Linked DNA regions of Homo sapiens: region 2 is linked to region 1. The links come from fine-mapping of genetic effects on gene expression. Tissue or cell type: whole blood. Region 1 holds a variant in brackets; the other region holds the start of a gene. All regions are shown on one strand. Distances are between the middles of the regions.

Region 1 (5,229 bases):
ATGAACGTGAATTATATTTCAGAATTAATTGTTAGTAATAGAAACTCCTTTGGAAGGAAGCTTGATGAGCTCAGTGCACATGCGAAATTGCTCCTTCATATGACATGAGCATCCTTATGCCAGAGAGAAACATTTTGAGTGTGACAGAAATGAGAAAGCCATCTGTTAGAATGAGGACTTATTTCAGCATCAGGATATTCAAACTCTGAAGCAAATTTTTGAATACCTTGAGTGTGGGAAAGCTTTTCATGAGGAGGCAGCCTTCAGTACCCATAAGAGAGTGTGCTTCTGGGAGAAACCTTGTGAATATAATGAACAACTAAGAGCCTTTTCTGACAATCCAAACCTCCTTGTTCATCAGAGTACTCACAGAAGGGAAAATCACTACGAGTTTAATTGCTGTGGGAGGAGGTCTGTTGGTGAGAAATCTCTAAATAAACACCATGGAGGAATCATGGGGAAAAAATACTATGAGTGTGAGAATAATTTTGGCAAAAGTCACTCTTTATTGACACTGAAAGAACTCAAAAAGGAAAAACAAGCTTTGAATGTAATGAAGGTAGGGAAATCTTTAAGAAACCAAGTCTCTCTCAACAGCATACATACGCAGAAAAGAAAACCTTTCAAAATAGTCATTATGGGAGTTCTTTTTGGCATATGTCAGTTCTCCCTAAACATCAGCAAACACACGTAGGAGGAAAGTTCTATGAATGTAATGAGTGTGGGAAAGCTCTCAGCCACAGTTCATCTATCATAGTACATAATAGGATATACACAGGGGAGAAACTTTATGAATGTACTGAATGTGAGAAAACCTTCACAAATAGGTCAGGCCTTACAGTTCATTGGCAGATACACACAGGGCAAAAACCCTAAGAATGTATTGAATGTGTCATGCACATTCGATACATACAAATGCAAAGTGTCATTAGGTTATGTGACTTATATCTGAAGGGAAGCCTTTAGATATAAGTCAGTCCTTACAGTACATCAGTACATCAGAGAACACACACAGGTGATAAACCCAATGAGTGTAGTGAATGTGGGAAAAAATTCTGTGAGAAGTCATATCTCCAAGTACATCAGAGAACTCACACAGGGGAGAAATCCCATGAGGGTAAAGAATGTGGAAAAACCTTTGTTTACAATTCATTCCTCATAGTACATCAAAGGATACACATAGGTGTAAGACCCTATTAATGTAACGAATGTGGGAAAACATTCTCACAAAAGCCAGACTTCACTTATCATCAGAGAACTCATACTGGAGAAAGGCCCTGTGAATGTAATGAATGTGGGAAGTCTTTCTCAGTGAAGTCAAAACTTATTGTGCATCAGAGAACTCACACAGGGGAAAAACCCTATGAATGTAATGAATGTGGGAAAACCTTTTCCCAGAAGTCATCTCTTACAGTACATCAGAGAACACACACAGGGGAGAAACCATATAAATGTAATGCATGTGGGAAAAGTTTTTCCCAGAAGTTATCCCTTACTGTACATCAAAAAAGACATAAAAAGAGAAGCCATATAAATGTATTCAATGCAGCAAAACATTTAACCAGAAATCAGCACTTACTAAACATCAAAGAGCTCAGGAGAGAAACTTCATAAATATAATGAATGCAGCAAAACTTTTTACCACAAGTCATCCCTCACAGTACATCAGAGAACCCACACAGGAGAGAAACCCTACAAATGTAATGAATGTGAGAAGACTTTCTACCAGAAGTCATCACTTATAGCACATCAGAAAACACACAGAAGGCAGAAATCCTGTGAATCTACAAATGTGGAGAGCCTTTTATCAGAATTCACTAATCTGAGAAAGTACAGAGAGAAGTCCCTGTTAGCATCTTCTGAAAGTCCAGAAACCTTTTCTTACTTAACCTACTCAGTTTACATTAAAAACAGTGAAGGGGAGAAACTTTGTAAGTATGAGAAATATTTTGCCCAGAAATAAAGGGCCATCTTAGTGAGCAGCAGATATTTGATATTTGAAACATCTTACGAATATTTTGAATAAGTTGTAACTTTGAAAATGATTCAGTTTTGGTTATACATGAGAGATTTTAGCTCACTGGAAATGTCAGTTTGGTAATTGAGACTAAAAACTTCCTTTAGAAATATTATACTAAAATTCTTGTTTCTGATATACCAAAATTTTATTGAAAATATTCAGTTACAGACATACTGTGTACTAGGAATCTAACTTCAAAAAGCACAATTAGGTCGAATAGTCATAAATACACCAAATACAAATGCAAAGTGTCATAATGTTGTGTGAGTGTGCTTTATTTTTATTTTTTATTTCATTTTATTTTATTTTCTGTGTTCCGTAAAACTTTACTTACTCAAGTCCAACAGAGCTTAAAGGTTAAAAAAAAAGTACTTACAAAGACAGGCAGCGGGCTGGACTTGGCCTACAGCCACTAATTTGCTGACCTCTGTGCTAAAATCAAGGTGCTGCTAATGCAATCAATACTTTTTAACAGCACCTTACATGCACGCCATTATCCTTCAAAGGCAGACATTTGGCTGGGCGCCGTGGCTCACGCCTGTAATCCCAGCACTTTGGGAGGCCGAGGTGGGCAGATCACGAGGTCAGGATATCGAGACCATTCTGGTTAACACGGTGAAACCCTGTCTCTACTAAAAGTACAAAAAAAATTAGCCAGGCGTGGTGGCGGGTCCCTGTAGTCCCAGCTACTCAGGAGGCTGAGGCAGGAGAATGGCGTGAACCTGGGAGGCGGAGCTTGCAGTGAGCCGAGATCGCTCTGCTGCACTCCAGCCTGGGCGACAGAGTGAGACTCTGTCTCAAAAAAAAAAAAAAAAAAAAGGCAGACCTTTATGCTACATGCTTTCATTTTGATTTTTCAAATGTTCAGTTTGCAGCTTACAATACAAGCGCTGTAAGGGAATAATATCTTGTGGGACTCAATACAGAACTTCAATGT[T/C]AAAGCAATTTTTCATTGTGTTAAAGCACAGAAGTGTGAATAAGGCCAGTATAATGGGAAGAAATAATTCTACCCAAATACATCCTATAGTAATAAATCTGCAATCAAGAAATCCACTTGGGTGTTGGAGTAAATGGCCTTGAACAGAAAGAACTAGTATCTAGGAAATGCATAATCATATAAATAAAAATTTCTAAAATAAAGCAAAAGGTTACATTTCTAAGCCTTAAAGTATTTTTCTTTCTTCACACTTGAATTTTTATTCTAAGTGACTGAACAAAAAATACACCATCAAGATGAAAAGGCAATTCAGAAAAGAAATACAAGCACCTAGCAAATAAGTGTAAATATATGCAATCTCCAAAAAAAGTAAATTATAACCAGAAGAAAGAATCGGTTAAAAAAAATTAGGGTGCATATAATTTGCATTCGAAGCTTTCCCTTACAAGCCTGAATCCTCAGTACCAGATCTTAATCTTCTATATCTCAGGTCAGCCCCTCCAAATATAGCTGCCTCATCAGATATTTCAGTTTAGATCTGGCCAGATGATCAGGCTATTCCCCTAACTAGTGTGGGCCACAAAAGACTCAAGTGACATTGAGAAAAATCAGAGAAGATGAACCAGGCTTGGTAGCTCATGCCTGTAATTATCTGGAGGCTGACTGGGGAGGATTGCTCGAGCCTGGGAGTTCAAAGCCATCCTGGGCTCACAAAAAAATGGTGGGGGGCAGGTGGGAATTTTGATGCTTAAATTCCTTGGTTCCTTCTGTAGTGGATTTCTTCTTTTTTTTTTTTATTATACTTTAAGTTCTAGGGTACATGTGCACAATGTGCAGGTTTGATGCATAGGTATACATGTGCCATGTTGGTTTGCTGCATCCATCAACTCATCATTTACATTAGGTATTTCTCCTAATGCTATCCCTCCCCCAGCCCCCCATCCCCTGACAGGCCCTGGTGTGTGATGTTCCCCTTCCTGTGTCCAAGTGATCTCATTGTTCAATTCCCACCCATGAGTGAGAACATGTGGTGTTTGCTTTTCTGTCCTTGTGATAGTTTTTTGAGAATGATGGTTTCCAGCTTCATCCATGTCCCTGCAAAGGACATGAACTCATCATTTTTTATGGTTGCATAGTATTCCATGGTGTACATGTGCCAAATTTTCTTAATCCAGTCTATCATTGATGGACATTTGGGTTGGTTCCAAGTCTTTATTATTGTGAATAGTGCCACAATAAACATATGTGTGCATATGTCTTTATAGTAGCATGATTTATAATCCTTTGGGTGTATATACCCAGTAATGGGATTGCTGGGTCGTATGGTAATTCTAGTTCAAGATCCTTGAGGAATCGCCACACTGTCTTCCACAATGTTTGAACTAATTTACACTCCCACCAACAGTGTAAAAGTGTTCCTATTTCTCCACATCCTCTCCAGCATCTGTTGTTTCCCGACTTTTTAATGATTGCCATTCTAACTGGCAAGAATGGTATCTCATTGTGGTTTTGATTTGTATTTCTCTGATGACCAGTGGTGATGAGCATTTTTTCATGTGTCTGTTGGCTGCATAGATGTCTTCTTTTTTTTTTTTTTTTTGAGACGGAGTCTTGCTCTGTTGCCCAGGCTCGAGTGCAGTGGCGTGATCTTGGCTCACTGCAAGCTCTGCCTCCCGGGTTCATGCCATTCTTCTGCCTTAGCCTCCGGCGCTTGCCACCATGCCCAGCTAATTTTTTTTGTTTTGTATTTTTAGTAGAGACAGGGTTTCACCATGTTAGCCAGGATGGTCTCGATCTCCAGACCTCGTGATCCACCCGCCTCAGCCTCCCAAAGTGCTGGGATGACAGCCATGAGCCACCGCACCCAGACAGATGTCTTCTTTTGAGAAGTGTCTGTTCATATCCTTTGCCCACTTTTTGATGGGGTTGTTTGTTTTTTTTCTTGTAAATTTGTTTGACTTCTTTGTAGATTCTGGATATTAGCCCTTTATCAGATGGGTAGATTGCAAAAATTTTCTCCCATTCTGTAGGTTGCCTGTTCACTCTGATGGTAGTTTCTTTTGCTGTGCAGAAGCTCTTTAGTTTAATTAGATCCCATTTGTCAATTTTGGCTTTTGTTGCCATTGCTTTTGGTGTTTTAGTCATGAAGTCCTTGCCCATGCCAATGTCCTGAATGGCATTGCCTAGGTTTTCTTCTAGGGTTTTTTATGGTTTTAGGTCTAACATTTAAGTCTTTAATCCATCTTGAATTAATTTTTGTATAAGGTGTAAG
Region 2 (5,229 bases), 49 kb after region 1:
GCGAAGTGACTTACCCAATGTCACAGAGGAAAAGCAGGGTTAACTAAGACTCCCGCCTTTCAGCAGACCTAAGGACAATGTGTGGTACATAGAAAACACACAATGCTTGGAATGAAGTCCTTCCTTTAAATTAAAAAAGTTGTTGTGTAACACACACCAGAATCTCAAAATTTACTAAACTGGCAATCCCCAGTTGCAGCGGCAGTGAATACTTAATCATTAGGGAGCAGGCAGAAGCGAAGGAAGGAAAATGTATTGATTCTACTAAGGTTAATCTCCCTTGAAGTCCTCAATTACTTTTCAGGGCACAGAGAAGCCATGCTCTCAGTACCTCAAGTCAGCTTACTGTCCTCTAAACAGATTTTTTCTAAGAGCTCATGTGTGTGAGGGCTGTATTTGCCAAGCAAAAAGATGGCCTTTGCTGGTAGTGTTAAAAAACATTTTTTTTCCCTTAAAACGCAGTCTGATATTTTATTCAAACAACTTCTGATGTGATGACCTGTTTAGTTAATGGAGAAAGAACAGCCTGAAGGAAGAAAACACGGGGTTTATTTCTGGCCTTCTGCTCTCTGAAACAAAGGACAAGGCACTTTCCTTCGGCTCTCTCAGAGTTAGCCGAGTTAGAGCTCTCCACCATAAAACGCCAGGACAGGGCAAAGAGGGGGCCGACCATCTCAAACACCATGGGATTCTAAGTGGGGGCTGACCATCTCAAATACCCTGGGAGTCTAAGGGTTAATTTTGAGGTAACCTCCTACAGATGGTTTTATGGGGACAACTGAAAACTCTCTTTAAAAAAGTACGACTTGGTAATTTAAAATTTACTGGAACAGTTAAATATGTAGACATGCTAGTGAAAGAGAACAAATCAACCTGAGTATAAAGGATGAATAACTCATTTTACCTACCCTAGAGACACTTATAGTGTATAGAGAGATATTTCACAATAAACCTTTGGATGTACAAAGATCAACAGAATAAAAAAGGAGTGAAACTCTCCTTTCACTAGGTCTGGAAGAGAGAAGGAAGCTTAGTTCTTAAAAAACACCACAGAGAGTTCTGATGCATAGCCTAGTTGAAAAGCATTTCTAGAGTGATTTTGTAACCACTGTGCTGCCATTTAACGAATTTCCTCGTTTTTGACTCATAGTTAATAAATTATCACTATTAATATGCATTTTTTTGTGTACAGGTAATATAATATGTTCATCAAGATGGTAAGCTCCTTGAAGAAAAGCACCGTGGTTTATCATTCTATCTGTTTTGCTGAGACCACTTAGCACTGGGATGAGTATGGAATAGCTTGGAATGACTTTCAATGTGAGTGAAATGTCTGGCAGGAAAAGGCAGGCTTTGAGAGGCTCCCCAGGAGGGCACAGCCCACTGCTCTGAGGAGTGGAATAAATTCTTGGAGGCAGGATGGGCCAGTGAAAACTCTCTGTGCAGACCCTGGTGACATCATCTGCTAGCTACATGTCCTTAGTATCTTAATGTCCCTACATCCATAGCTATAAAATACCGTACTGGGGGCCTGACAATAAAGAAAACAACACATGGCACAGGGACATTTCAGGGAGATGGCATTTTAGGAGAAATGGAACGCCAACTCACCCGGACCCTGGTCATTTCTTACTCCCAGAGGGGATGGATTCCTGGAAAGGCAGAGTTAGGGAAAGAGAAAAAGCCATGAAAATCAAGTCCAGCAAGACTGCGGGGAAAAAGTTACTCCGCTCCTGCCTCTGACGCTTCTTCAGTCACTTCCACCCACACTCCCTCCATCAGGTGAGAGGTGAAGCATTTTCTGTCACCACCTTCATCTCTCTCCACAGGGCTTTCGATTAAACAAGCCAAGTTTTCCCCCCAAAACCAAGAGGCTAGGTAAATTCCGCAGCCGCCGGCAGCTCGAAGCCGTGCCCATTTCCTCTGACTTTCCCGATCTCTGTCCTAAAGTTCTAGTTAAGAGGAGAAGCTTCTCGGGATGGATTTCGGTTGCCCAAGACGCCTTCCCCGACCTCATTCTCAGGAGCCTGGCTCGTTCCTGCGGTGCGGGGGCTCAGATGCAAGCTCTTTTCAGCGAAGGCAGTGCTGCGGACAGAAACCTCAGTCTCTTACAGGAGCCCCCGTCCGTCGCCTAACGTCCACCGAAAACCCCCCTGCAATAACGCCCGTCACAGGCGAGGAAAAGGCCGGCGTGGCCAACCACGAAGCCCCCAGCCGGCCCAGGCCAGAGCTCGGCCAGGAGGGAGGAGGGGCCATCGGAGGCGCGGCCGCTCAGCTGCAGGGCCCCACAGGCTTCGGTGTGGCCGCAGCCCGGCCCCGGGGGCGCAGCAGCTCGGAAATGCGGCGCCGGGACACACGTGCCGCCGCGGGCCGCGCCTCCGCTGGTCGCGTGCCCTACCATCGCCGCCCTCCCGGCTTCCGCAGCTCGGCGGCCCAGCGCCTTACCCGCGGCACACCCATTTCCTGACCCCTGAACGCCTCTGCCAGCGGCTGGGGAAGCCCGGCCAGTCTCACCTCCCACGTGGAACCCCACGCCTGCAGGGGCCAGATTCCGGATGCTGACCGCTCGCGCGCCTAGGGCCCCGAAATACAAGTCCCAGCAAGCCGCGGGCGAACCACGCCCACTTCCGGCGCGGGCCCCTGAACTCTGCGCTGTGCGGAGCGGGATTCTTGGGCGGAGGGGACCATCTTTGAGTCAGCGACGCGTGTATTCAAGTCCTCCTCCTCGTTTTTTATTACAAACAAATAAGAATTATTTTAGGAATACCTGTTAAGGTGATTTTCATTTGTTAAAATACTATTGGGGGAAAAGGATGTAAATACCCATAATTTCATCTTTACCTTTCAAAACATTCTGAAGTGAATATTTGCCATTCGGCATCTTCCATCTCACCTCTGAAGTTCATCCATTTAACAGATATTAATTGAGAGCCAACTGTGTACCAGGAGCTGTTCAAGATGCTTGCACAAAAGTCACTGCCCTATTCTAGTTGGGGAAACAAGCAATCCATAAATATAGTAAATATATGGCGTCGTGTGTGTCATGAGGTGGTACTGAAAGCATAGAGCTGGGCGGGGTGTGGCGAGGTGCGTTTGTGGGTGTGTAGGACTGGAGGTGTACTTTGCAATTTTAAATAGGGGATCTTGGAACAAACACAGGAGGTGAGGGAATTAGACAAGTGGCTCCCAGCAGTCAGAACTCTCCTAAACGCACACAAGGGTTGTTGATACCAGGATTTTACGTTTATTTCACTTCTCACCGAGTGACACAGAGCTACCCATTTGGTCTTTTCCCAATTCCTTTCTTTCAGATTTATTTTGGAGAGGAAAGAGATGTTGCCTGGACCTCTCTTCTACATCCTCCCCCTTCCTTGGTGTATTAGTTTCCAATTGCTGTCACAACAAATTAACACAAACTTAGTAGTATAACAAACATGTATTCTCTTAAACTTCTGGAGGTGCCAAGTCTGAAATCAAGTTTTACTGGGCTTTATAAAGTCAGTGTTGGTGGGGCTAGTTCCTCCTGGAGGTTCTAGATGAGAATATTTCTTTGCCTTTTCCAGTTCCCAGTGACTATTTGCATTCCTTGGCTTATGGCTCGCTCCTTTATCTTCAAAGTGCATGACTGCAACCTCTGCCTTCATCATCACATCACATGCTCAGGCACTGGCTCCTCGTGGGTCCTTCTAATAACGACTGTTGTGATTACATCAGGCCCAGCTGGCTAATCTGGGATAATCTCTTGACGTCAAGATCCTTAATTTAATCACATTTCAAAAAAAATCCCTCTTGCCATAGAAATTAACATCCACAGCTTCTGGGGGTTAGGACATGGACATATTTGGGGGACTATTATTTTCAGCCTGCGATGCTTGGAGAGGCCCACGTCCCCTTCGGTCTCCTCCTCAGAGATGCTGTCTTACCTTTTGCCTGGGGAACACAAAATGTCTCCCTTGGACCTTACTCCTCTCCTCATTCTTCATTGGAAAACCACAGAGCTTTTCCCTATTTAGATTTACCACCCTTGCCCTGACCTTCACTTCCTCATGTGCTCACTTCTCTCCTCACTCAATTTAAGAGGCCATGGAGCATGGTTATGGCCAGTCCTGTGTATGTGCCGTTACCCTTAACTCTCTTGTCCCAGTCTTTCTTGGTTTTATTCTCTTGATGGAAACCCAAATCTGCTTGAATCCAGTTCCTGGCCTGCGCCTGTACGGCAGAGGTTGTTTGAGAAAACCACATGGCTGGGATGATTGGTTTCATTTTCAGTTTATAACCATTAAGTTCAAGTGGGCCCTTCACGCTGCCTGGCTATCCTTCTACATTTCTTAGTCCATCCATTCTCCTAAATGACTATTTCACAGGTTCTACTCTCTTTTCATTATTTATTTATTTATTTTTTTGAGCCAGGCTGGAGTTCAGTAGTGCGATCTTGGCTGACTGCAATCTCTGCTTCCTGGGCACAAGCAACCCTCCCACCTCAGCCTCCTAAGTAGCTGGGACTATAGGCTTGCGCCACCACACCAGGCTAATTTTTGTATTTTTTTTTTTAAGAGATGAAGTTTCACCATGTTGTTCGGGCTGGTCTCCACCTCCTGGGATCAAGCGATCGTCCCACCTCAGCCTCCCAAAGTGCTGGGATTACAGGCTGAGCCACCATGCCTGGTCTTCTACTCTCTTTTCAAGCCGCCAACAACTCCTCCCATCTCACTGAGTGCTGATGACTTTGCTTTCTGTTACTGAGTAAAGAGAACTTCTATACCGCCTCACAGGCACATCTGCCCTCCTCTCTGCATTAGAAACTGTATGCTCTACTTTTCATTCTGAGTCACTGGCCCTAGTTCCTATATGAGAAAATTCTTTTGCACCCTGGATGTTAAATGCTTTCTCATGAATGAGGTCCTTCTCTCTCTTCTGTATTTCAAGATTTTCATTCTGTACTGAATTATCAGCATACTAATGAATACACTGTAATATTGTCCATAAAATAAATAAAACCCCTTACCTTGCACCCTATTTCTCTCCAGCCACTACCTCATTTCTCTGCTTTGCTTTACAGCAAAACTCCTAAAAAAATTGTCCCTAAGGGATGTTTCCAATTTCTTTTCTCCCATATTCTCTCTTTTTTCACATGCAAAACCCAAAATTTAATTTTTAACTTAATTTTAAAAATTGGTATATAATAGATGCACATATTTTGGGGGTACATGTGATAATTTGATTAATATT

The links. PIP is the estimated chance that this variant, and not a neighbour inherited with it, causes the effect. A credible set is the group of variants that fine-mapping cannot tell apart.
Region 2: it holds the start of ZNF239, and the variant in region 1 is the best candidate, but not a certain one, in a credible set for the expression of ZNF239 in whole blood (INTERVAL, PIP 0.85).

The regions. Positions count from the first base shown.
Region 1 is chr10:43,523,427-43,528,655 of GRCh38, forward strand. It overlaps a transcript of ZNF487 not described here and the pseudogene LOC100130881. Among named protein-coding and RNA genes, the nearest start is that of ZNF239, 49 kb to the right of the region's middle. The variant T/C (reference allele first, on the strand shown) is at 2,958.
Region 2 is chr10:43,572,026-43,577,254 of GRCh38, forward strand. It overlaps ZNF239 (zinc finger protein 239), which reads right to left and starts at 2,591. Exons shown (of 4, transcript NM_001099282.2): 1 at 2,515-2,591; 2 at 1,612-1,652. RefSeq lists a silencer at 2,314-2,373.